Regions from separate parts of the Homo sapiens genome. Here region 2 is linked to region 1. Evidence: fine-mapped expression QTL. Tissue or cell type: whole blood. Region 1 holds a variant in brackets; the other region holds the start of a gene. All regions are shown on one strand. Distances are from middle to middle.

Region 1 (2,757 bases):
TGCAGAACAAAGAGATTCATGGCCACTGTGGGGGCCCCTTCTGTTAGACTGCACAGAGGCAGGGATCTGGAGGTCTCCAAGAGTGGCCTCCTCCCTGCAACACCCTCCCTGCCCCAGAGGGGAAGGTAGTGGATGGAGATTGAGACCCTGCTGCTGACTGGCTCCCAGCCTGGGCTGGTTGCCTTTACTTCGAGAGCTGAGGTGGAAGCTCCATATGGCACTGACCTCTGCAATGTTTCTCATGTCCTTTGCCCCATATTCCTTCTGTAGTTCCAAGTCAAATCTAAATTATATGTCACCCTGAGAAAGCTGAGACCTATTTGGTTTTTAGCTCTCTAAAAATGCCCCTATATTAAAGATCCTCTTAGATCTCACTCTTATTGAAACTTCCTCAAATTTAAAATCACACTGTTCATTTGCATAGACACTGTGAGGTGCATAAAAGGCGAGGAATGTGGCTTACAGTCACATGTTTCATAACAATAAGTTTCCAGGCAGAAAATTCCACAGCAACATCAGAAGTTCATTCCTAAGAAAAGCCAGGGACAGTTTGGTAAATTCAGATAACAGTCATAAGGAGTTGCTTTAAAACTCAACATTGAGGCATTTCTAGGAAAGCCATCTGCCTCTGGCTACAATCCTACAGAGGACACTGTGTACAGCTCAGAATGGGTCACCATGACCGTTTCTCCTTGTGATTGCCTTTAATTCACAAACAGGCTCTGCACACACTGGAGGCCATAGCACACACACTGGAGGCCATGGCACACCACTTTGTGGACATTGGTCATCTGGGTGTCAGTCATCTTTTGAAATTATCAGCAAAGTTGAAAAGATAGTAAATGCTTTGTTAACCCCTAAAGTAACACTCTGTATAAACTTTGAGGAAGTCAATATGGTGAGCTGGTTGGGAATTCTTGCTGAGATACCAGGCAGCAGCAGTGCACCACCTGCCGGCCACATGTGGGAGTCCCCCAGCCCAATCGAGCCTTCGGATGACATGGCTCCCACCCACTCTCTGATGGTACCTGCAGTGGAGGCCCCAACTGAGAAGCACTCAGC[C/T]GAGCCCAGTTGACCCCCAGAGCCACAAGAGATTGTAAATAAATCACTGTTAAAGCCACCATGACTCAAGGTGGTAGATAACTGGGGCAGTTTTCTACTCTCATTGTGCGCACAAAACTTCTGAAGTAATGAACATGTTTTTAAAAAACAAAACAAATTAAAATAAAAGCGTCATTTGTTGGTTTTTACAAAACCCTCCCCAGGAAAGCCTAGAGTTAGCACAGGTGCTGAGAGTGGAGGGACAGGAAGAAGAAACCTACAACAATGACAGCTGGCAGGCAGCCACAGGCTCACACCCATTGCAAAAACATAGACTACCGAGCCCAGCAGTGCTTGGATCTGTGTTATGTGGTTTGGATCTATATCTTTTTCTTCATAAAAAAGTTAAAAAAGGCTACTTAACAAATTACATCAGCAAATTCTCTAGTAGGGACAAAAACACATTTTATAGGAGGAAGTACAAGCTGTGCTGACACCTTGAATTTTGGAGTTTACGAAGATGTCAAATGGTGTATCCTTCAATGCTCACTGTATATGCTAATACATTTGGGCATGGGGAGTCACTCTGTGTTATTCTACCCCATAAAGTAGCTGGCCTGAAAATTACTCTCCCAAATAGCCAGGAGAACACCTGTTATAAATTATTTTTCAGATACGAATCATTTTTTCAGATAGTTACTATGTACAGCACACAAGCTACAGAAATAGTTAAAAGTATGCCATTTACTTCCCACCTTTTGGGAACTCATATAGTTGGAAAGTTGAGGCCTAAATACATGACAATACAAGCCACATGTGATATGCAGAGAGCCTACGTGTGACGGATCAGTGAAGAAATGCCACTGCGAGCGTCCAGTTCACAGGAGGGAGCACAGAGGAGCTCCTCCACCTCCAGCATCCTGGACTTCAGGCTCTTCGTGAAAGGCTGGGACTCAGCCAGGAAGGCGACTCAGATCTGACCAGGTAGGCAGGGGGAGGAAGGCAATTTGGGGACAAACAGCATGAGCCTGGGTGGGGAGGCAGAAAGGCACCGAGGTGGAGAGCAGTAAGGACAGGTGGGGGCACCAGCCCTCAGTGGGGAGCTGGGGAGGGTGGCTGCAGGACCGGAAGGCTGGCAGCAATACAAAGACACAGACGTCTGTGGGCCGTGGAGGGACAGGGAGCGAGTTTACGGTAGGGAGAAGAGCAGGTCACAGGGCAGGTGCACCCTCCTCCTGGCGGCAGCCCTGCCTGACATCACAGAGTAGAGAAGGGAGCCGGGACCAAGGGCGTCCAGCATGTGGGGCTGACCCTCGCCATTTCACCCATTCATTTTCATTAATCCTCACTAAAGGCCCAGGGGCCCTGGGGTTGTCATAGTCCTCCTCAAGTGACAGATGAGAAAACTGAAACTCAGAGGAAAAACGCAACTTCCTCAAGTTCATACACCAATAAGTTGAAGAGCCAATCTCAAAACCATGTCATCTGATCCAAAAGTTCATACCTTTCTGGGATACATGTGAAGAGAAAATGATGTGGGGAGATGTTTTGGAAAATATCAGTAAGGAACAAGCAAAAGGGGAATCAAGATGATGCCAAATTTTACATCGGGACAGAAATAGGGAAATCAAACTGAAAGCTTACTTTTTATTTACTAATTTATTTCTACGTAGAAGAACAGTTATAGAAACCGGTCTAAGAGGGAAGAAAATGGAT
Region 2 (2,500 bases), 120 kb after region 1:
ATAGAGTAGTGGCTGCACTTTTAAAATAATCGCTGTCTTTTTCATTGTCAAAATAATTGAGTGGTCAGATAATTTTGGGAAAAGTTGCATACTATATACCCCGTTTCATAGGGATTAATAACATATTAGCTTACTAAAGGATCTGAGTGAACCTGCACTTAACACATTGACAATGGCACCATTTCTTCAAGAAACTCCTATGACCATTTGTTTCAGATTAAGCATTAGTATCAGAGTTACTGTGGTACCTTAAGATTACCCCCAAATTCAAAAGCTACACGAAAAAAGAATAATTTTGGCTCTCTCTCAATAGTAATGTAATCCTTAACAGTTCAAAATTATCCCTAGCTATATGTTACTATAAACTATTTTTAAGACGGTTTTTAATGAATAAGAAATTAAGTATTAACGAATACAGCCATGTTAAAATCTGGAAACTTCATACCTCTACTTTTTCTTGCTCCTCTAGTGCTAAAAACACAGCTGCTCGGAGTTCAGCCTTAAAAAAAAGTTAAGAAACAGGAAATTATAATTTCAAGACAATTTTCACAACAAGCTCACATTTATCCAGCAACAAACACGAGCAAGCCAACGAGCTGGGAGGGCAGGTGCAAAGGTCAGAAACGCCTTCCGAAACGTTCTCAGTCACACAAGCTCTCCGACCCCCAGGCTTCGGCTGGACGCGCTGCTTTCCCGCCGCGGATCATGCCCGAGCCTGAGGAAGAGACGCTGGGGCCGCACTCCAGGGCCCAGCTGCGGGCCGCCCGTGTGGCCCCCAAGCCCCGCGGTCCCGCCCCCACGGAATGAGGCAGGGGATGGGCCAGGCACCCCCAGTCCGCGGTGCCCTCCGGGACCACACGAACGAACGAGCCGACCCCCTCTGTGGGGCGGGCAGGACGGAGGCCATGCCGGGGCGCGCCCCCAGTGCCCGCCGGCCCCGGTCCCTCGCCAGGGAGGCGGCCTCCTCGCCGCGACCGTTGTGACGCCCGCTGTCCACGCAAGCCCTGCGGATCCGCCAGGCCCGGCCCCAGCCTCCGGCCTCACCTTGATGCGGTTCAGGACCCCGCTGTTCTCCAGCGTCTGCACCAGCAGGTCCCGCAGCTCCGTGTCCTCCTCGGCCACCACTGCGGCCGCCGTCGCCGCCATCTTGCTTCTCCAAGACAACCGCCGAAGCCGCGCTAACGGCCAACGGCCGCAGCAGGGTACGCTCCGCGCGCGGGCTACGCGGCCGACGCAGCCAAAGCCCCGCCCCGACGCGCAGCGCGCTGGCCCTGCCCCCTGGCGTCGGGAGGCGGGGCATAGAGACCTCGGGGTTGACGCTGGACACCGAGCCTTGGGGAGCGCCGGACCACTGAGCGCCGAAACTTAGGGTCGGCGCTGGGGGCGGGGCTGCGGGGCGCGGGTGGGCACGCAAGGGGCGGGGCGTCGGCGGGGCCTCCAGCCGGCAACCCGTTGGCTGCCGTCGCCTGAGGCGCGAGCTTTGAAGCCGGCGAGCGGTGAGGAGGAGGCGCCCTCGCGTGTGGAGAGCGGACTCCGCCTGGACTCCACCGCCCACGGCCGCATCCCATCGCCGCACAAGATCGCCGGAGTCATATTATCGACGTAGTTAAAGCCCACTAGCCTAAAGCCGGGCGGACTGCGGTAAGGAGGCCCCGAGACCGAACCTGCAGCCCCTGCAGCCCCGGGGGGGCGCCGGGGAAGGGACTCCCGAGAGGTCGCGAGGGGCGGAAGGCCCTGCAGGTTGTCACCCGGAAATAACGTTCTGAGGCCCCCCAGCCAGGCGAACGCACCCTGCTCGGCCACGGCCTCCGAGGCTAACCGGAAAGGTGCCAGGCCGAGGTGCAGGGGCGGGATGGCCCCAGGAAGAGCCGAGGGCCGAGGAGGGCGTTGGGTGGGCTCCGCGCTGCCCGAACTGGGGCCGCAGTCTCCACTCCCTCCTGCCCCGCGGCCCTCCGCCGACAGCCAGGCGCCGGCGGGGAGTCCTGGACCCCTCCCGGGCCCTGGAAGCCCCGTCCCGCCGGAGCTGACGCGCCCTCTTGGTATCCATCCGGCCGCCTGGGCTGCCCCTCGCCCCTCGCCTTGGCAAAACCAGCCCCCGGACCGAGCCCTGCCTTGGAGAGTGTGGGTGCGCAAGGCCAGCCGAGCTGTCGGTTCCGGGGTTTCGGGGTGCGCCACTGTATGGCGGCGTAAGCCGAGAAGTGTCCGAGGCCGGGCTCCAGCAGTTGAGAGGCTGATTTGGCCACGGTGAAGGACGCGCCCGGAGGAAGGAAACGGGAATCCGAAACGGGCGGTGGCCGCGCCTTTCCCGAGGCCGGCGTCGAGGGCTTCAGCGCCTCAGGGTGGGCGGGAGGGGAAGGTCGTGCGACCCGCGTGGCCGGCGGAAAGGAGCAGCGGGAGCCGCGGCCGTAGGGAAGCCACGGGAAGACGGGCGGCTGCGCTGCGATGCGCGGCCCTCTCCCTGAAGCCCTCGGCTCAGGCGCCACAGGAAAGGCTCCTTCGG

Evidence for each region. PIP is the estimated chance that this variant, and not a neighbour inherited with it, causes the effect.
Region 2: it holds the start of CEP43, and the variant in region 1 is fine-mapped to the expression of CEP43 in whole blood (TOPMed, PIP above 0.99).

The regions. Positions count from the first base shown.
Region 1 is chr6:167,118,454-167,121,210 of GRCh38, reverse strand. It overlaps a transcript of CCR6 not described here. Among named protein-coding and RNA genes, the nearest start is that of CCR6, 3.3 kb to the left of the region's middle. RefSeq lists an enhancer at 1,706-2,206. The variant C/T (reference allele first, on the strand shown) is at 1,063.
Region 2 is chr6:166,998,059-167,000,558 of GRCh38, reverse strand. CEP43 (centrosomal protein 43) reads right to left here and starts at 1,162. Exons shown (of 13, transcript NM_007045.4): 1 at 1,045-1,162; 2 at 446-499. The coding sequence starts at 1,146. RefSeq lists silencers at 701-790, 801-960, 1,051-1,570, 1,861-2,090.